3 linked regions of the Homo sapiens genome follow. The protein of the gene in region 1 interacts with the protein of each later gene in a pairwise test. Each region holds a gene or a part of one and is shown in the gene's direction. Other genes may lie near its edges.

Evidence for each region. Proteins that work in one complex are often made in the same cells at the same time.
Region 2: the proteins of MEOX1 (region 1) and CIB3 interact in binary tests that used the Homo sapiens proteins (3 or more experiments, as listed by UniProt).
Region 3: the proteins of MEOX1 (region 1) and PLCD4 interact in binary tests that used the Homo sapiens proteins (3 or more experiments, as listed by UniProt).

What each region holds. Positions count from the first base shown.
Region 1 is NC_000017.11:43,658,909-43,666,449, reverse strand, and holds the start of MEOX1 (homeobox protein MOX-1), read left to right. Parts: upstream 1-4,527; 5' UTR 4,528-4,915; coding exon 4,916-5,384; intron 5,385-7,541. UniProt on the Homo sapiens protein: Mesodermal transcription factor that plays a key role in somitogenesis and is specifically required for sclerotome development. Required for maintenance of the sclerotome polarity and formation of the cranio-cervical joints.
Region 2 is NC_000019.10:16,170,513-16,178,377, reverse strand, and holds the start of CIB3 (calcium and integrin-binding family member 3), read left to right. Parts: upstream 1-4,852; 5' UTR 4,853-4,902; coding exon 4,903-4,953; intron 4,954-5,181; coding exon 5,182-5,216; intron 5,217-7,865. UniProt on the Homo sapiens protein: Acts a an auxiliary subunit of the sensory mechanoelectrical transduction (MET) channel in hair cells. Plays a role in regulating hair cell MET channel localization and function.
Region 3 is NC_000002.12:218,631,883-218,637,688, forward strand, and holds the end of PLCD4 (1-phosphatidylinositol 4,5-bisphosphate phosphodiesterase delta-4), read left to right. Parts: intron 1-253; coding exon 254-430; intron 431-1,446; exon of another isoform or gene 1,447-1,503; coding exon of another isoform or gene 1,504-1,722; coding exon 1,723-1,879; exon of another isoform or gene 1,880-2,222; coding exon 2,223-2,339; exon of another isoform or gene 2,340-2,575; coding exon 2,576-2,748; exon of another isoform or gene 2,749-3,913; coding exon 3,914-4,049; exon of another isoform or gene 4,050-4,360; coding exon 4,361-4,510; coding exon of another isoform or gene 4,511-4,588; coding exon 4,589-4,695; 3' UTR 4,696-5,293; downstream 5,294-5,806. UniProt on the Homo sapiens protein: Hydrolyzes the phosphatidylinositol 4,5-bisphosphate (PIP2) to generate 2 second messenger molecules diacylglycerol (DAG) and inositol 1,4,5-trisphosphate (IP3).

The sequences.
Region 1 (7,541 bases):
AGGTTGCGGTGAGCCGAGATCCCACCACTGCACTCCAGCCTGGGCAACAGAGCAAGACTCCGTCTCAAAACAAAAAACAAAAAAACAGAGCTGAGGTTTGAACCCACAGGCCCCCAATTCCCAAGGCCATGATTTGGACCCTTGTGTTATGTTGCCATAGAAGGTATCTGGGGGCTGGGATGAGCCGTCTTCACCTACATTGTGCTGTGTCCTGCCCAGTGGTTCAGCATAGTTAAGGACAAGCTATTCCTCACATGCATCACCCTTTATAGTCAGCCAGCTCTGTTCTCAGATGCAGTTCATTTATCCTCCTAACCGCCAGGTGAGGCCGGAACTGTCAACTCCATTTTGCCAGTGAGAAAAATGAAGCTCAGAGAAGGGTGTGATTTGCCTGAGACCACACAGCCGGTAACAGGCAAGGTCACACCTTGAACCCGTGTCTTCTGCCTCCAGGTCCAGGGCCTTGCCCTGACACCCTGCCTCTCCAAGCACAAGGGGGTGGGGTGGCCACAAACAGAAGCAGCCCTGTCCTGCCAAGTACACGCCTGCCTGCCACGCACAATGGGAGACATTCCGCAAGTTCCACGTGATGGCTCAGGTGTGGCCAGGCTGAAAGCCCTCCTGGGCCCCCCCACGCCCCTGGGGGACCTCCTCGTGACTCACACTTTTCCTCTTCCTCCCCTTATTCTCCCCAACAATCAGAAACCGGGGTCCCCTCCCTTCCTGAAAACAGAGCTCTCCTCATGAGGCCACAGGGCTTTTTCGACACACAGCTCCTTCCATCCATCTCTGTCTCTGGCCCTGTGGGGCCTTGACAGGGAAACGCTGACTTTGAGGAGGTTAAAGGTGCTGGTGCCCGGCCTTCATCTAACAAATGGGTTGCCGTGAGGGGAGGAACTGTTGTTGTTTTTTCCTGGCCTCAGAAGAGGGGCCTGTCAGGAAGATGTAGGGGCCAGCAGCCCCCGGCCGCGCCCCGCAAGGTGGCTGACAGACGCCAGCAGCTGCCGGGGGCTCCGGGGTGCCAGAGGCCTGTGTTCTCAGGGCAAAGCACCCCACCGCGCCCCCTCCCCATGGCCCTCCTGACCTCCCCACCCACCCCACCATGACCCAGGGCCCACCCCGTCCAGGGGCAAAGGGCCAGGCGCTGGGCCTCCCTGCCATGAGGTCCCTGGGCCAGATGCAGAGGTGGAGCAGGAATCCGGTTACAGCCTGCGGCCAGCCCAGGGGAAGGTTTTCCTAGGGAAGCTGACAAGCCAGATCTTCCTCCCAGCCTCCCACGGATTCCTTCCAGAACCCCCACAGCACAGCGTGCCCCCCACAAAGGACCTCACAAGGCTGTTTCTGTAGAATTTCCTCAGAACTCCCCATTCCCAGGTTCACCCTTTGGGATCATCGAGGTTAACCAGAAATAGATGTGCTAGGAAGGGAGCCACATTTGTCCATTACTTACTCTGCCTTTTGCATAAAGGATTTCTTTCTTTATTTCTTTTTCTTTTTCTTTTTTTTTTTTTTTGAGACAGTGTCTCACTCTGTCGCCCAGGCCGGAGTGCAGTTGTACAATCTTGGCTTACCGCAACCTCTCTGCTTCCCAGGCTCAAGCGATTCTCCTGCCCTCAGCCTCCCGAGTAGCTGGGATTACAGGCATGTGCCACCACACCCAGCTAATTTTTGTATTTCTTTTTTTTTTTTTTTTTGAGATGGAGTCTCGCTCTGTCACCCAGGCTGGAGTGCAGTGACGTGATCTCGGTGCACTGCAAGCTCTGCTTCCCGGGTTCACACCATTCTCCTGCTTCAGCCTCCCAAGTAGCTGGGACTACAGGCGCCCGCCACCACGCCCGCCTTTTTTTTTTTTTTTTTGTATTTCTAGTAGAGACGGGGTTTCACTGTGTTAGCCAGGATGGTCTCGATCTCCTGACCGCATGATCCACCCGCCTCGGCCTCCCAAAGTGGTGGGATTACAGGCGTGAGCCACCGCGCCCGGCCTAATTTTTGTATTTCTATTAGAGACGGGGTTTTACCATGTTGGCCGGGCTGGTCTTGAACTCCTGGCCTCAAATGATCTGCCTGCCTCAGCCTTCCAAAGTGCTGGGATTATAGGTCTGAGCCACCGTGCCTGGCCTACATAAAGGATTTCATTGAAGATTTGCAAATGTCTGTGGGCTGGGCTGCCTCAATTTGAATCCTGGGTCCGCCGCTTCCCTGCTGTGTGGCCTTGTGCAGGTTACACAGTCTATCTGTGCATCAGAGTCTTCTGCTGAAAAACGGAGCTGATAAAAAAAAAAGAGAGAGAGAGAAACGGAGCTGATGAGAATGACTGTTGCCTCAGAAGGCTTTTGTGGGAATCCGTGGGGGTAAAAATGTGTAAGGTGCAAAGTGCCTTACACAGATCCCACTCTGACTGTCATCTCAGATGAGGAAACAGAAGTTCAGAGAGATGGCCAGGCATGGTGGCTCATGCCTGTAATCCCAGCACTTTGGGAGGCCGAGGCGGGCGGATCACGAGGTCAGGAGATTGAGACCATCCTGGCTAACACGGTGAAACCCCGTCTCTACTAAAAAATACAAAAAATTAGCCGGGCGTGGTGGCGGGTGCTTGTAGTCCCAGCTACTCGGGAGGCTGAGGCAAGAGAATGGCGTGAGCCCGGGAGGCGGAGCTTGCAGTGAGCTGAGATCATGCCACTGCACTCCAGCCTGGGCGACAGAACGAGACTCCATCTCAAAAAGAAAAAAAAAAAAAAGAAGTTCAGAGAGATAAGGTGACTTGTTCCAGGGCACACAGCCAGGAAGTGGCAGACCTGGGGCTTGAACTCAGACCCGTCTAACCTCAAACCCCATGCCTCCTCCTCTGCATCTGGCCTGCTCCAAACTGAACAGCAGGACACCTGAGGCCAAGTGCTGATTCCACCATTTCTTAGCTGTGTGAGTCTGGGCAGCCCAGTCATCCATCTGAGCCTCGGTTTTGTCATCTGCAAAATGGAGACATAATTCTTACTTACCCATCCTAGGAAAGTTGTGAGGCTCAGAGAATTGTGTGTGCCACAGCTAAGCCCTGGGCAAAGCAGAAAGATGAGTCTGGTTGACAGCTATGACCCCATCCACTCTACTGGTCTACAACACTCTGACCGCTTGTTCCAGAAGAGGGCACATCTTTTCATATGTACACCCCTCCCCATCTTTTACAGCTGCTCCTGCTCCCAGGATGTGTATCTGACTGGAGTTTCTGGATTAAAGGCCAGTCGTGGCTTCATTCCACATCCCTGGGTGCCCTTCGGCTCCTCCTAGGAGCATCTCCTGCACCCACCCCCCAGGGCCCCACCTCCAGGCTGCAGAGCTAAGACCTAGGGGCCCCTCCTCAGGGAACCCTCGCCGTCTTTGGAAGCAGCCAGCAGAGACGCTGCTGTTAAGGTCCATGCCTGTTTCTGCCCCCATCCTGCTGCTCTGGGCCATGGGAATAACCAGTGGGGAAGGAGTTCTGGCCCCTGGGTGTTAGGAATGTCGTCCTCCAAGAAATTGCATTAACCCTCTGAGAGACCAGCAGGGCGCAGCCATGAGGAAGACTGGGCATCAAGATGGCACTTGGGCTGGCTGCCCTGTGATGTGCACCAGCCCGGAGACCCACGTGCCTGCTTGCCAAAGAGGCTCCTTTGGGGAATGAGGAGCCCCTGATTCCTATTTCCCTACCCCAAATTCCTCGGAAGCCTCCGCCTCTGGGGGATGAGAAAGGGAAGCAGGTGGGTGGAGGTGAAGGGGGCAGGGAGCAGGTGGGAGGAGACCCGAAGAAACTTCAAGGACCTTATTTAAGAGCCTTGCCATTGCTGTGAAGAAAAATGACTTGAAACCTCTCTAGAGAAGAGTGTGGCTAATTGGCATGTATGTTGGAGGTTAAAGAGCGGAAGGAAGAATCTGATTGTTTTTTTAAGTTACTGAGAAAGTGAGAATGTCACTCTGGGCAGAGAGAAATTCTTTTTTTCTAGAGTGTGCCTTTCTTTGTACTGCAGACCACAGTGGGCCGCTGAGACTTGCAAAAAAGATTTCTTTTAATCCACCTTCCTTTTTCGCAGGCAGCAGTAGAAGGGCCTTTAAATCAAATGCAATCACCAAGCTTGTCTCTTGCTCTTATTCCTCACTTCACTCCCTGGAATTTGGCATTTGATGGATTCTGGATCTGACTTAAGGCTTTTTCTAAATCCAAGACTTGGGGAATTTTGTTAACAGTGCAATAAAAATAACTTCATAGTGTTACAGGAGGCACATTAAAGACGGTGTGTGTGTATGTGTGTGTGTGCTGCTCTCTTTCCTTAAAAAAAAAATACAGACAATGTTTCTTTAAAAGTCTCCATCTGCAAATCCCATTAGATGTGCATATAAGGTTTCTGATGATTAATAGTTGCCTGCTAGGGTTTTGGTTGGAGGGGATCTTGTGTGTGTGGGTTAACCCCTCCCTCTCCTCTCTCACATTTCACTTCAGAAATTTGTCACTCTCTCCCCACCGCAGGATTTAAAAGTGTGTCCCAGCAGCCCTGGTCCAGCCCTCTGCAGGCATTTGCTCTGGGCTCCAGGACGAACTCCTCGTCAGCTGGTGCGTCTGGGTTGGGACAGTGAAAATGTTTAGTGTCATTGGCGACAAATACACATACAGGGGATCCCAGTAGGTAGGCTGGTGCATTGGAGGGGCAGGAGCAAGCCCGACATAGGTGTGTGCACACACATAGGAGTAGCTGGCCACATGTGTGTGTACTTTAAGGAGAGACTTTAGTTTTGGGTTTTTTTTTTTTTTTGGTTCCTGGGGTAAATTTTCTGTTGAACATTTTTCCCTCCTATTTAGTTTTTTTTCTTTTGCATTTTTAAAAATTTGAACATAAAAAGTATAAAGAATCAAATCTTTGAAAGGACCGAGGCGTGCAGCGGACAGCAGATGGATCCCGCGGCCAGCAGCTGCATGAGGAGCCTCCAGCCCCCAGCCCCTGTCTGGGGCTGCCTTCGAAACCCCCACTCGGAAGGCAATGGGGCCTCAGGGCTACCCCACTACCCGCCCACCCCGTTCTCCTTCCACCAGAAACCAGACTTCCTGGCGACAGCGACGGCAGCGTACCCTGACTTCTCAGCCTCCTGCCTGGCAGCCACCCCACACAGCCTGCCCCAGGAGGAGCACATCTTCACTGAGCAGCACCCCGCTTTCCCACAGTCCCCCAACTGGCACTTCCCTGTCTCAGACGCCCGGCGCAGGCCCAACTCAGGCCCGGCAGGGGGTTCCAAGGAAATGGGGACCAGCAGCCTGGGCCTGGTGGACACCACAGGAGGCCCAGGCGATGACTACGGGGTGCTTGGGAGCACTGCCAATGAGACAGAGAAGAAATCATCCAGGCGGAGAAAGGAGAGTTCAGGTAGGTGGCTCAGGAGCAGCTGATCATTCCTTTACTGTGTGACCCTGGGGAAGTTACTCACCCTCTCTGTGCCTAGGTGCTCTGAGCATGAATTTCTGTCTAGTCCATCCAAATGCAGGAGACTGGACCAGTTACCTTTGGGGTTTCTTCCACTGAGAGTTCTAGGATTCTCTGGTGATGGGGACCATGTCTGTGTCCCAGCACTCCTGGGCCCCAGAAAGGGTGTCCAGCAAGAGAATGAAACAGGATCAGCCAGGATTTGGAGGACACGTGAAATGGATCCTCTGGGTGCAGACTGGCGAGGGCTGGTGAGGGGCTTTCCTGAATCAGGCTGCCATTGAGTCATCCTCCTCCCCACCATGCTTTGGCCAGCCCCAAGTGGTCCTAGAGCCACAGGGCTCGCTTACCAGGGAAGTTCAGCTGAGGTTAAGGCTCTGAGAGCTAAGACTGAAGCTGGGACCCTGGGTGGCCACCCAAAGCCAAGACCCTATGTGTCCAGGAGCCTAGAGGCAGAGAAGCAGGCCTGCGGCTGGGATGGGAGAATCAAGGGGTGAGGGGGAGATGGAGGGCTGAGGTTTGGGGCAGACTGCCCACCAGATATCACCCTGCGGAGCTGGGCCATGTCCAGGCCAAGGGGACAGACAACTCAGCATGCTGAGATCTGGCTGACCCCCCAGGAAGGCAGCCCCGCAAGGAGCTGCAAGGGATGGGCAGCCTCTGAGAGAGTCAGGGAGGCAGGCAGCCAAGGGAGTCCGTGCTGGAGTCCCAGAGGCTGGAGGATGAGATTGGCCTATTTGTTAAGATTCCAGCTAAAGCCCTTCTCTTCCCCAGGGTGGGGACCTGCTGCTTCCTCACCTCCCCACCAGGCCCTCCCTGGTTGCTCACTATACCTGTCCACCTTTTGTCTGGTTCCTTGTCCCGGCCTCGTTCAGAACAAAGCAGTGACCAAGCCTCCTGCCCGTGCTGCCCTGTTTTCCTCCTGACAGCCGCCCTCAGGGGCACGCCTGTCTGTCGGAGCCTGTAGAGGACCTTCCCATGGGGCTAACCAGGGCAGGACAGAAAAGAAGGACACCAACCAACAGGTGGGAATGCTTTGTGCTTTGCTTTATAAGCACAGCTTTCCCGAGTTTCTGCTCTTAGCCAAGCCCAGGAATGCTCTGAGATGAATAAAGGGGTCTCACCCAAGAAAGCTCAAACTGAGAGGAAGAAGAGGCCTGCAGAGGTGTGTCAGCAGTGGGATGTGCCCTGATGGGGAGGCTTAAGGTGCCATGGGATACTGACGTCAGCTCTTTTGAGTCCCACGGGTTTGGGAGATGGGGACAGCAGGTTTTATTAGTACCTTGATTCTCTCAATCTGCAAAATGAAAGACTGAAAGTTGGTGAGAACACAGAAAGAATGGGGTCAAACTAGAGTGAGCAGCTCATCTCCATTTGCCCAGGACTTTTCCAGTTTTAGCACTGAAAATCCTGTCGTAGGAAACCCCACAGTCCCAGGCAAACAGAAGAATTGGTCACCCTAGAAGTGAGCTCAAACCCCAGGCTTCAGGCCCCCGGTATCACCCCCTTCAGTAGATTTCAAATGCAGTCCTCATTTTGAAATGATGTTTGGTCTGTCTGCTTGAAGAAGCCCCTTCTTCAATGGGAGATAGGAACTCTAGCAGCCCTCATGGCTGCTAAATAGAAGGGCCCTTTAAACCGCCAGCCAGTTAGATCCCCATCCCGAAAATTAACTCATCCTGCCCCTGGTAGGAAATGTGCTAAGGATGAGAAGCAACTCTCAGCGACTTGGCTCTGAACCTGGTTGAAGAGCTTTCCCCTTGGTGGCGGCACGCAGCACTGTGGCTCCTTCCTCTCTGCCACTTTCCAGAGAACTGACAGCCAAGGGCATTGGGAAGGGATAGCAAAGCCAAGAGCCTGCTGGGCTCAGGCAGAATCTTCCAGCATTCCGAGTCTCAGCAAAACCCAAATGCACCAGCTCTCTTTTTGGCGAGTGGCCGATGGCCCTGCAATGCAGAGAGACCATTCACACTAAGCAGCTGGCCACCCAGGAGTACAGGGACACCCTCGGCTGAACGGCCTGCATGCTTCAGGGTCAGACTTTGGTGGAGGGAGGTTCCCATCCGCAGGGGCCCTGGGCTTCCCTAAGGGTCCCCTCAG
Region 2 (7,865 bases), on another chromosome or scaffold:
TTACAGGTGTGAGCCACCTCGCCTGGCCAAAATTAATTTTTCTATGTCAGGCTGGGTGTAAATTTTCTATGCCAGGCTGACTCACACCTGGCCTGGTGTGCAATCCAAACACTTTGGGAGGCTGAGGCAAGAGGATCACTTGAGCCCAAAAGTTTGAGAACAGCTTGAGCAACATATTGAGACCTCATCTCTACAAAAAATACAAAAAATGCAGATCACGAGGTCAGGAGATCGAGACCATCCTGGCTAACACGGTGAAACCCCATCTCTGCTAAAAATATAAAAAATTAGCCGGGTGTGGTGGTGGGCGCCTGTAGTCCTAGCTACTCGGGAGGCTGAGGCAGGAGAATGGTGGGAACCTGGGAGGCGGAGCTTGCAGTGAGCAGAGATTGCGCCACTGCACTCCAGCCTGGGCGACAGAGCGAGACTCTGTCTCAAGAAATAAATAAATAAATAAATAAATAAATTAATTAATTAATTAATTAAAATATAAAAGTAAATAAAAAACTGAAAATAGTAACTGCTGGAGAAGATGTGAAATAACTAGAACCTACAAACACTGATGGTGAGAAAGCAAACTAGTGCAGCCTCTTTAGGAAGAAGTTTGGCAAGTTTCTTATATACTGAATATGAGCCATTAATCCTACCCCTCGATATTTACCCAAGTGGAATAAAAAAAAAATACAAAAAATTAGCGAGTGCGGTGGCACCTGCCTGTGGTCCCAGCTACTTAGGAGGGTGAGGTGGGAGGATCAGTTGAGCTCAGAAGGTAGAGACGAGTCTGAACGACATGGTGAGATCCCATCTCTACAAAAATTTAAAAAATTAGCCAGGTGTGGTGGTGTGCACATTTCATGTAAATAGAATCACACTATATGGGACTGTTCATCTCTAGCTTCTTTCACTCAACATAATGTTTTTGTTTTCTTCTTTTCTCTTTTTTGCAAAAGTTACCTTGATCAGCATAATGTTTTTATTTGGGTTGTCTTTCTAGTTTTGAGATGTAAGAGTTCTTAGTTTTTATCGTGGGTTTTGTTTTTTGGTTTTTTTCGAGATAGAGTCTCGCTCTTGTTGCCCAGGCTGGAGTGCAGTGGCACGATCTCAGCTCACTGCAACCTCCCCCTCCCAGGTTCAAGCGATTTTCCTGTCTCAGCCTCCCGAGTAGCTGGGATTACAGGCGCCCACCACCACACCTGGCTAATTTTTTGTATTTTTAGTAGAGACAGGGTTTCACTATGTTGGCCAGGCTGGTCTCTAACTCCTGACCTCAGGTGATCCACCCACCTCATTCTCCCAAAGTGCTGGGATTACAGGCGTGCGCCCGGCCCTGAGAGTTCTTTATATATTCTGAATAGTAGTTCCTTATGAGATATATGATTCACAAATACAGTTAGCCCTTCATATCCAGTTTCCTTATCCATGGATTCAATAAACCACGGAGTGAAAATACCTGGAACCAATAAAATAAAAATAATACAACAATAAAAAGAATACAAATAAAAATGTGTAACAATTATTTATGTAGCATTTATATTTCATTAGATATTATACATAATTTAGAGATAATTTAAAGTCTATGGAGGGCCGGGCATGGTGGCCCATGTAATCCCAGCATTTTGAGAGGCCAAGGTGGGCCGGATCACTTGAGGTCAGGAGTTTGTGACCAGCCTGGCCAACATGGCAAAACCCCGTCTCTACTAAAAATATAAAAATTAGCTGGACACAGTGGTGTGCACCTGTAATCCCAGCTACTAGGGAGGCTGAGGCAGGAGAATTGCTTGAACCTAGGAGGCAGAGGTTGCAGTGGGCTGAGATTACGCCACTGCACTCCAGCCTGGGTGACAGAGCCAGACTCCAACTCGAAAAAGTAAAATAAAAATAAATAAATAAATAAATAAAGTGTATGGAAGATGTGCACAGGCTATATGCAAATATTATGCCATTTTATATAAATGACTTGAGCACTGAGCATTTGTCCCATTCTGTGGGCATGACAGGTTTTTGTGTGAACCTAGTTTAAATTTTTTTTTTACACTATACTTTATTTTTTTAGAGCAGTCTTAGTTTCACAGCAAAATTGATCAGAAGGTACAGAGATTTCCCGTACACCTGCTGCTTTCATACTTGTATAGCTTCCCCTACAATCAACATCCTCCACATGCAAGTGCATGACAGTAGCTAGTCTGTTACAATTGATGAACTGACACTGATACATCATTATCACCCACAGTGGTTAGTGGATAGTTTACATTAGGGGTCACTCTCAGTTGAACATAGGTTTTTATTTCCCTTGGGTAAACACCCAGGAGTCTTTTTTTTTTTTTTTTTTTGAGACAGGATCTCACTCTGTCTCCCAGGCTGGAGTGCAGTACAGTGGAGTGATCATAGCTCACTTCATCCTCGACCTCCCTACCTCAAGCAAACCTCCCAAGTAGCTGGATACCACCAAACCTGGCTAATTTTTGTATTTTTGTAGAGATGGGGCTTCACCATGTTGCCTAGGCTGGTCTCCAACTCCTGGGCTAAAGTGGTCCTCTTGCCTTGGCCTCCCAAAGTGCTGGGATTACAGGCATGAGCCACCATACCAGGCCCTGAATCTTGTGGTAAGGTTAAGTTTAATTCTATTTAAAAAAAACCCAGCCAACCTATTTTCCAGAGTGTCTATACCATTTTGCATCAACACCAGCAATGTATGAGCATTCCAGTTGCTCCATACCCTCACCAACACTTGATATTGTTTATTTTTTGAAAGTTATTCTTGGATGGCTGGGCATGGTGGTTCATGCCTGTAATCCCAGCACTTTGGGAGGCTAAGGTGGGTAGATCACTTGAGGCCAGGTGTTCAAGACCAGCCTGGGCAACATAGACAGACCCTGTCTCCACAAAAAATACAAAAAAAAAAAAATTAGCCGGATGTGGCAGCATGTGCCTCTAGTGCCAGCTACCTGGGAGGCTGAGGAAGGAGGGTCGCTGCAGTGAGCCATGATTGTATCACTGCTCTCCAGCCTGGGTGACAGAGTGAGACCCTGTCTCAAAAAAAAAAAAAAGTCATCCTTGAGGCATCTTTCAAGCCTGATCAGGGTCACATTTTACAAGATGACTGCACAGATTTGGCAGAGGATGCTTGATGAGGCCGAGGCAGGAAAGCCTGCTGGGAAACATTGCAATAGTCCAGGCCAGGTAGAGAAAACACAGGTGAGACCCAAAGTGAGAAGGGCATGGAGGGCCAGGCTAAGAAATTTAGACTCTCAGATTCTCCACCCAAGAGGATTCTGGGCCTTAATAAAGTTGGTAGCTGCTACATTAGATCTGCCCTTTGGGCCGGGCGAGGTGGCTCACACATGTAATTCCAGCACTTTGGGAGGCCGAGGCGGGTGGATCACCTGAGGTCAGGAGTTCGAGACCAGCCTGGCCAACATAGTGAAACTCTGTCTCTACTAAAAATACAAAACTTAGCCAGGCGTGGTGGTGGGCGCCTGTAATAATCCCAGCTACTCGGGAGGCTGAGGCAGGAGAATGGCCTGAACTCGGGAGGTGGAGCTTGCAGTGAGCCGAGATCACGCCACTGCACCCTAGACTGGGTGACAGAGCGAGACTCCGTCTCAAAAAAAAAAAATACAAAAAAAATTAGCTTGGCATGGTGGACACCTGTGGTCCCAGCTACCTGGGATGCTGAGGCAGGAGAATCACTTGAACCTGGGAGGCAGAGATTGCAGTGAACCGAGATCACACCACTGCACTCCAGCCTGGGCAACAGAGTGAGACTGTCTCAAAAAAATAAAATGTAATAAAATAATAATGTCAATGCACACCCCAGAACTTCATCTAGCTTGTTCACCATTATGTTCCCAATGCAGTGATGCAATCATGGCTCACTGCAGCCTCAAACTCCTGGGCTCAAGCAATCCTCCCACCTCAGCCTCCTGAGTAGCTGGGACCACAGGCATGCACCACCACATCCAGCTAATTTTTGTATTTTTAGTAGAGATAGGGCCTTGCCATGCTGCCCAAGCTGATCTTGAACTCCTGGCCTCAAGTGAATCTCATGCTTTGTCCTCCTAAAGTGCTGGGATTACAGGTATGAGCCACCTCGCCCAGCCAAAACCTTTTTTTTTTTTTTGGAGATGGAGTCTTACTCTGTCACCCAGTCTGGAGTGCAATGGCGGGATCTCGGCTCACTGCAACCTCCACCTCCTGGGTTCAAGCAATTCTCCTGCCTCAGTCTCTGGAGTAGCTGGGATTACAGGCATGTGTCACAATGCCAAGCTAATTTTTGTATTTTTAGTAGAGATGGGGTTTTGCCGTGTTGGCCAGGCTGGTCTTGAACTCCTGACCTCAGGTGATCCGCCTGCCTGGCCCTCCCAAAGTGCTGGGATTACAGGTGTGAGCCACCTTGCCCAGTCAAAACCTTTTTTTTTTTTTTTTAAATCTCAGATCCTGAGAATGACCCTATGAGGTAGGTATAATGTAATTTTCATCTCATGAATGAGGTTCAGAGAAGTCAGGTGACTTGCCCAGGGCCACACAGCTAGTGGGCAGAGAGCTGGGATTTGAGCTGCAGTGTGCCCATAGCCCTTCTGTATACCCTGCCTGTCTCTTGAGTGTGCCCCATAACCCCAGCCTCACCTTGTGGTGGCAGATGTGGCCTCCCCACTGAGGTCTTCTCTGTGACATCCCACAGCCCTTATCCTTACCCATGGACACATTCAGGCTGTTGTCCAGAGAGCCTGGCTGTAATTTGAGTCTCATCAAGCAGGGGGTGATGGCGTAGGTGGGTGGGTGACAGCCAGGGCAGGGAGATTTGCCCAGACACTGGTACACAACAGCCTGGCAACCCGTGTGGCCCCGAGGAAGCTGGGAGCCTTTGGGGTGCATCCCCAAGTCTGGGCTGTGGTTCACACCATGGGCAACAAGCAGACAGTCTTCACACACGAGCAGCTGGAAGCGTATCAGGTAGAGGGGGGCAGGATGGGTCCTCAGTGGGTTTGACAACTTTGGTTCCGTGGTCTGGGAAATGGGAACAGAATGCCTTCATCTGGGTGTACCGTCCGCCTGGGTTCCTGGTTCTGCTCTGTGTGTGGCAGCATCAGGCCATCTGTGTGAGTGTGGGGTGGAGGGAGGAGGCCGTGGGAGGAGGCCCCAGAGGCAGGGTTCGGGTTAAGACAACACCTCTCTCCACAGGACTGCACATTTTTCACAAGGAAGGAGATCATGAGGTCAGTCCAGGGAGGAAGGGAGAGAAGATCTGGAAAAACAACTTTCTATTCATTGCTGGAGGATATTTGCAATTTGGTGTGTGTGTGTGTGTGTGTGTGTGTGTGTGTGTGTGTGTGTGTAAGTAGTCTTTCTTTCTTTCTTTCTCTTTTCTCTCTCTCTCTCCCTCCCTCCCTCCCTTCCTTCCTTCCTTCCTTCTTTTCTTTTTTTTTGAGACAGGGTCTGTCTCTATTGCCTGGGCTGGAGTGCAGTGGTGCAATCATGGCTCATTGCAGGCTCGATCTCCCAAGGTCAGGTGATCCTCCCACCTCAGCCTCTCGAGTAGCTAGGACCACTGGTGCGAGCCACCACATGTACCTCATTTTTGTATTTTTTTATAGAGATGGGGCTCTCACTATGTTGCCCAGGCTGGTCTTAAACCCTTGGGCTCAAGCGATCCCCCTGCCTCAGCCTCCCAAAGTGCTGGGATTACAGGTGTGAGCCACCATGCCCAACTGGTATTTCCAATTTGTTGGGACTCAAATGGGGAAGGGGGGCAGGTGTGGTCAGTGGACAGAGGCAGAGATGGAGAAGCTGACAAGTCACATCTTGTCATACTGTCCCAGTCTCTAGGCTGATGAGCTTGGGCTTTCTCCCAAGGGTGGCAGGGAGCTATGGAGCATGCATGAGCAGGGGAGAGACCATCAGCACGTTAGAAAGATTCTCCTGAGGCTGGGCGCGGTGGCTCATGCCTGTAATCCCAGCACTTTGGGAGGACAAGGTGGGTGGATCACCTGAGGTCAGGAGTTTAAGATCAGCCTGGCCAACATGGTGAAACCCCATCTCTGCTAATAATACAAAAATCAGCTGGGCGAGGTGGTGGGTGCCTGTAATCCCAGCTACTCAAGAGGCTGAGGCAGGAGAATTGCTTGAACCTGGGAGGTGGAGGTTGCAGTGAGCCGAGATCACGCCACTGTGCTCCAGCCTGGGTGACAGAGCTAGACTCTGCCTCAGAAAAACAAAATGAAAGATAAAGATTCTCCTGAGACTGGGACTTGAGGCTGGGAGCCCAGGTGCAAAGTCCAGAGCCCAGTCTGGGTTGTGGGCTTGGCATTAAGATGAGGGTGTGAGGAGGTGGCCCAAGGCTGCTGCAGGTCCCTGGCGTGACCCAGCACGATGGGCACAGATGAGTATCCCACATCATCACTCGGCCTGTGGGGCCATTGCCCAGGGGCCCCGACCCATGAACTTGGAGCTATGAAACCCAAGCTGGCCAGGGTTCAGCTGCAGTGTGATCGGGGCCAAGGCCCCAGTTGTGTAGTAACAGGACATCCATTATTGATGGCCACACCTTTTACTAGTGAGCCCCATTGTTTGGGTGAGGACAGCTTGCAGGGTCACCTCGGCCATCACGATCAAATTACTGATGGGGAAACTGAGGCTCAGACAGGGCGGGGCTGATCCCAGGCTGAAGGGTAAATGCACAGAGCCCCAAGGCCCCAAGGACAGACATTTTGTCTGTCCCAAGCTTCTTGCTTATCAGATAGAATAACCAAGGCACAGAGAGGGAGAGGAGAGGAACATGCTCAGAGCCACACAGAAACCTAAACCCAGGGTATTCCCTGATGGGACCCCGACAGGGAACTGAGTGGTCAGGATGAAAGTTCTAGGTCTCCCCACCCCACCTTCATTGAGTTCCTAGTCATCATATGACCTAGGGACTCATGTCTCTCTCAGAGACAGTCCCTAGCAGCTTGGGGACCTCAGACCCACCAAGGATGGTCTCTGCAAGGCTGCTGCTCAGCATGCCCTAATGAAGGTATGGTGTCACAGGTGAGGGCTTCTGAGTGGAGAACTGGCCTTATAATCTGGATAGTGTGTGTGGTATTCAGTTATTTGCAAAATATCTTTTGTCTGCCCTTTAGAAAAAATGTGACTATTAGCTGTTTGTCTCTGCTCTGCCCCATTGAGGAATCCCTCCTTTTTTTTCTTTCTTTCTTCTTTTCTTTCTTTCTTTTTTATTTTTTATTTATTTATTTTTTTTATTGAGACCGAGTCTCATTCTGTTGCCCAGGCTGGAGTGCACTGGCTTGATCTCGGTTCACTGCATGCTGCGCCTCCCGGGTTCACACCATTGTCCTGCCTCAGCCTCCGGAGTAGCTGGGACTACAGGCGCCCACCACCACGCCTGGCTAAATTTTTATATTTTTAGTGGAGACGGGGTTTCACCATGTTAGCCAGGATGGTCTTGATCTCCTGTCCTCGTGATCCACCTGCCTCGGCCTCTCAAAGTGCTGGAATTACAGGCGTGAGCCACCGCGCCCGGCCTCTTTCTTTCTTTTTTCTTTTCTTTTTTTTTTTTGAGACAGAGTCTCGTTCTTGTTGCCCAGGCTGGAGTGCAGTGACACGATCTCAGCTCACTGCAACCTCCAGCTCCCAGGTTCAAGTGATTCTCCTGCCTCGGCCTCCCGAGTAGTTGGGATTACAGGTGCCCGTCACCACGCCCAGCTAATTTTTTGTATTTTCAGTAGAGATGGGGTTTCACCATGTTGGCCAGGCTAGTCTCGAACTCCTGACCTCTGGTGATCCACCCGCCTCGGCCTCCCAAAGTACTGGGATTACAGGCATGAGCCGCTGCATCCGGCCTCTTCCTCCCATTATAAGGAGAGGAA
Region 3 (5,806 bases), on another chromosome or scaffold:
ATAACGAGTATTTACTGTGTCAAATGTGTGGCAGGAGACCATATATATTATTTTCCATATGGATAGAGATATTAAAAGTTTGCTTAACAATATGGGAATTCCAATTGTATGTATCAAGCAGCTAATCTCTTCCCTCGGGAACTTCCGACCACTCACTCACTTCCTCTGCCTTTGAGAACAATGAGACTGGCATGATTCCCAGAAGGACCCAAGAGCAGACAGGTAGACAGGCCCCTTCATTTTTGTCCCCTAGGAGCTTCGGAGGAAGATCCTGGTGAAGGGGAAGAAGTTAACACTTGAGGAAGACCTGGAATATGAGGAAGAGGAAGCAGAACCTGAGTTGGAAGAGTCAGAATTGGCGCTGGAGTCCCAGTTTGAGACTGAGCCTGAGCCCCAGGAGCAGAACCTTCAGAATAAGGACAAAAAGAAGGTAAGCCAGGAGTGGTCTTTCTGCTGTGGTATTTAGTCAACTTATGCAAGCTGAAGGCCTGTTCATGAAGACTAGAGCCGTGCAAGATGCAGGGCCAAGGAGCAATGACCCTTCCTCCCAATGAAGGAGATTTAAGACCGCATACATGGCATCAATATATATTATATACTGCCATATGTAGGTATGTTGCAGTGGCTTTCCAACTTCTTTGGGCCACATCTTTTTTTTTAAAATGAAATCTTACGCAAAATAGATAAACGCAGAACCATCCTAGTTGAAGCACCCATTTGGCTCTCTCCTGGGTGCCCTAGTGACTCCTGAGACATTTTTGTACTTCTTGGTCTTCTTAAAGGCCAGCTTGAAAACCAGTGATGAGCGGGTGTGTGTTTGTATGTGTAACATTATTATATTGGGTAAGTAGGGGTTACTGGAATGATTGTTGTGATCTCAACCAAAGTGGGCATAGAGAAAGCTTTTTGGAAAGGATGAGTTTTAGGAAGGGCCAGCAGTAGCCAGAGGAGCAGGAAGGAGAGCATTTTGAGGTGGGGAACGTGAAGGCTCTGAGAAGGCTGTGCTAGAGTGGTCCATCTCCCTATGGGGAAGGGAGGCAGAGGGAGAAGGGATGCCATTGGTGGGGCCTCCAAGATCCTGGTTTGAAGTCTGCCTTTCTCTTGTGTACTTGCGTGGCTCACTCAGCTGACTGACTCCTAGCTTATCCTGTGCTTTCTGGGGCTGTGGTGTCTAACCTGCTGCCATGTCCAGGGATGGAAATGGGAATTCAGGAGACAAATCCAAAGATATTACTCTGGGACTCTCACATCCTTCCAGGTGTGACTTACATGACCATTTGCATACCTTGACATATCTGTCTGGATTCATGTACATTTTGACCAAAGGTTATTGTTCCTTTGTTTTAAATGAGAGGGAGGGAGGATAATGCCTCTCTGTTTAAATATAATAATAAATTTAAAACCTGTCACCCAGGATATAACATAGAGCAAACACAAGCCCAGAGGTTGACACTGATCCCAGCAGTACATGCAGACCGCCTTTATTCCCATTCCCACCCCCAGGTTGTGACGTGCCCGCTGTTTTGTCCGTCTATCTGTTGTCAGATTGTGGCCCAGGCTCCTATTTCCAAGCCTGAGTCCCTTCTCTTGTCCCGGCAGGTGAGGCAGGAGGGAGAATACAGTGGGGAGGCAGTGGGCAGAGGTTTAGGTTGGATGGCCATTATCTTCTTCTCTCTCAGACTGCTGAGGGTTCAATTCCATCTTCTTTTCCACCTTCTCCAGAAATCCAAGCCCATCTTGTGTCCAGCCCTCTCTTCCCTGGTTATCTACTTGAAGTCTGTCTCATTCCGCAGCTTCACACATTCAAAGGAGCACTACCACTTCTACGAGATATCATCTTTCTCTGAAACCAAGGCCAAGCGCCTCATCAAGGAGGCTGGTCAGGACCAAAATGGAGGGATGGGGAGGGAAGTGGGATGGATAGGTTCAGGCCTGATGGACTGGCAGGTAAGTCCCAAGAAAAAAGACAAGGTAGCTAAGGAGAGATGAAGGAGTTCAGAAACTCCTTAGAGCAGACAAGGGCAGAGGAGTTATGAATAGTGGCTCAAGGGTCTAGGGGCAGGAAAGCTGGTCTGGATGGACAGAGTAGAGAGGCACAGTGAAACTTTCTGGAGCCAGCTTCAGATGCTGGAGAGAAGGGTGAAGAGTAGGCATGGTCCTTGGGACTAGGGAAGTGGGAGATTCCACCCCACTTCCATCTCCCTCTCTATACCCTTTTACAGGCAATGAGTTTGTGCAGCACAATACTTGGCAGTTAAGCCGTGTGTATCCCAGCGGCCTGAGGACAGACTCTTCCAACTACAACCCCCAGGAACTCTGGAATGCAGGCTGCCAGATGGGTGAGGAGGCAGCAGGGACTGGGAAGAGGGAGTGGAGGAGCAGCAGGTGGGAAATAAGTTCTCTAGTGATGGTAGGGTTGGGGAATGCTCAAGAAAATTGCTAGGCTGAGAAATGCTATCAGTGGATATTACCAGCAGGTACCGTGCACCCAGTACCTATCTTCTTAACTCCCTGAAAGAGGGGCTGGAAGGCCTCCATGGTGAATCTTGCTCTTCTTTTCTCCTGGGGCCCTCAGTGGCCATGAATATGCAGACTGCAGGGCTTGAAATGGACATCTGTGATGGGCATTTCCGCCAGAATGGCGGCTGTGGCTATGTGCTGAAGCCAGACTTCCTGCGTGATATCCAGAGTTCTTTCCACCCTGAGAAGCCCATCAGCCCTTTCAAAGCCCAGACTCTCTTAATCCAGGTACAGTGGAAATAAACTGTTGGGAAGAAACTGAGATAACTGGGATAGAAGTGAGGGAAGAGGTGGCTAGGCCTGACCGGAATGTAGAGGCCGGATAGCCTATTAACAGTGTCTAGTTTTAGCTTTTGGAGCCAGCTGCCTAGCTTCAAACCACAACTTCCTAATTGGGTAATGTTGGGCAAGTTCCTTAACCTCTCCATACCTCAGTCTGCTCACCTGCAAAATAGGGGTAACACTACCACCTGCCTCACAGGGTTATAAGGAGTATAACAGTTAATATAAAGTTCTTACAATTCCTGGCACACAGGAAGTGCTATAAAAGAGGCTGGCTGGGAGCGATAGCTTACACCTGTAATCCCAGCGCTTTGGAGGCCAAGGCAGGAGGACTGCTTGAGCCCAGGAGTTTGAGACCAGTCTGAAACTGGTCTCAACAAAAAATTTAAAAATTTTGTAGAGACTCCCGTCTCTACAAAAAATTTAAAAATTAGCCTGGCATGGTGGCACATGACTATAGATAGTCCTGGCTACTCAGGAGGCTAAGGCTGGAGGGTCACTTTAGCCCAGGAGATGGAGGTTGCAGTGAGCTATGACTGCCCCACTGCATTCCAGCTTGGTCAAGAGTATGATCGTGTCTCTTTGAAAAAAAAAAAGTGGCTGCTGTCATTAGCATGCCTACTTTCAAACTGTTGAATTTCTACCTGGATCCATTTAATTTATTTGTTTATTCTGAGACAGAGTCTTGCTCTGCTGCAGGCTGGAGTGCAGTGGCATGATCTTGGCTCACTGCAACCTCCGCCTCCTGGGTTCAAGTGATTCTCCCATCTGAGCCTTCCGAGTAGCTGGGACTACAGGCGCCCGCCACCATGCCTGGCTAATTTTTGTATTTTTAGTAGAGATAGGGTTTCACCATGTTGGCCAGGCTGGTCTCCTGGTTTCAAGTGATCTGCCCACCTCGGCCTCCTGAAGTGTTGGGATTACAGGTGTGAGCCACCGTGCCCGGCCTTTGGGTGCATTTTAAATTGCAGATAGAATACTAGAAGAAAATATATTACCCATGGAGGATGTTTTACAAACCAAAAAGCTTCTTCTCCCCTGGGGTTGGGAGTAGGGTCGGGTGGGGCTGGGCTGAGCAGGAACTTGTGAGATTCCAGAGCCCTGACTACAGGTGATCAGCGGTCAGCAACTCCCCAAAGTGGACAAGACCAAAGAGGGGTCCATTGTGGATCCACTGGTGAAAGTGCAGATCTTTGGCGTTCGTCTAGACACAGCACGGCAGGAGACCAACTATGTGGAGAACAATGGTGAGAAACTGGCAGTGCTGGGGAGGTGGGGGTAGGAGCATGATTAGTTTTCCTTCTAGTCTGTCTTCCATTAAGTATAGCATCTGTTATTGCATGTCCCCACATGGGAGGCAGTGTGGAACAGTACAAAGAATCCTGGCTCTTCACTTAAAAGCTCCAGTGACCTGGGCAAATTACTTGCTTACTCTGAGCCTTTTTCCTTACCTGTAAAATGCTGATTGCCATCTAGATTAAATGAGAACACAAGAAAAGCAACCCAGTCAAGAAAACTGTCATAATGTCTTCTTATTTCTTTCTGTCCACCAACTCAGGTTTTAATCCATACTGGGGGCAGACACTATGTTTCCGGGTGCTGGTGCCTGAACTTGCCATGCTGCGTTTTGTGGTAATGGATTATGACTGGAAATCCCGAAATGACTTTATTGGTCAGTACACCCTGCCTTGGACCTGCATGCAACAAGGTGAGCCAGCCCCTTTGGCCCCTGGCCAATACCCCAGCTCTGGCTGCCTTCCTAATGCTGTCCTCCTGCCCCTTCCAGGTTACCGCCACATTCACCTGCTGTCCAAAGATGGCATCAGCCTCCGCCCAGCTTCCATCTTTGTGTATATCTGCATCCAGGAAGGCCTGGAGGGGGATGAGTCCTGAGGTGGGCATTTCACGGGAAGGGTTGGTGTGCTGGCTTTAGACGGGGAGAAACATCTGGAAGGATGCTCGAGAGAACAAATGGAGGTGGTGAAAATCAAGCTTTGGATTGTGCATTCCTAGGCACAAAATTACCTCATTCTTCCTAACAAGCAATCTGGGACCTGATTTTCCACCTTTTTTCTCTTTTCTTCCCTTCCTTTGTTTTCATAAGCCTTTGGTATCTTTCCTGCCCTTTTCCTTTGTGTACTCTATACTGGAGTTCCCTTCTTCCTCTTGCTGTAGGCTCAATCCCATACCGACATCTACAACTAATCTTTCCCATCAACTCTGTGTGAAGGCAGGTTGCAACTAGAAATTCAGAGGGGCTTGGAATAGAGAAACCTAAAGAAGCATCATCCCCTCCATCCCCAACTTCCTCAAAGCCCAAAGCCAAGGGAAGGATAAATCAAGGCTCAAGGCTTCCCCAGCAAAGATTAGGGAAAGAGACTTGACCCCAGGACTGTACTACGACTCTTAAGAGAACACTGCACAGCACTCAAAGTCCCCCACTGGACTGCTTCCTCCTTAGCCCCACTGGTATAAATACATCTCTCTCCAATTTGGCTTCAATATGGTCTGTCATTGTTGGGCAAGAAGGGGAGGTACAAGGGTTGTGGGGACATCTGGGTAGTCAGGTGAGACAAGGAAAAGGTAGAGAAAGAGGTTCCCAGGAGACCTCTTGCATGTGCTACATAGGAAGGACACAGAGTATGGCTTTTAAGAATCAGGGCAAAAGCAGACAAAAGGTTATGTGGTCCCAGCCTTCCTGAAGAGTCTGGCTGGAACCATCCTGGTTTATGTCTGTTGTCCCAGCATAATTATTAATAGTACCCTCTTTAAGTTTTCCCAGTGTGTCTCAGTTTAGATGATCAATTATATAGTAAGGCACTACAGAATTATACTGTGAAGCAGTTATAGAATTCTGAATTGGAGATTTTCCTCTCTAGTCATCTGCCTTTCCATAGTATCCTTGTGCTTTAACACCTTAGTGTAGCTGCTGAGCCAGTCTGAGGATTGATGATGAGCTAAAGTTGCTTCTAGGAGGAGGCTTAGTGGGTAGCAATCCTCCCTC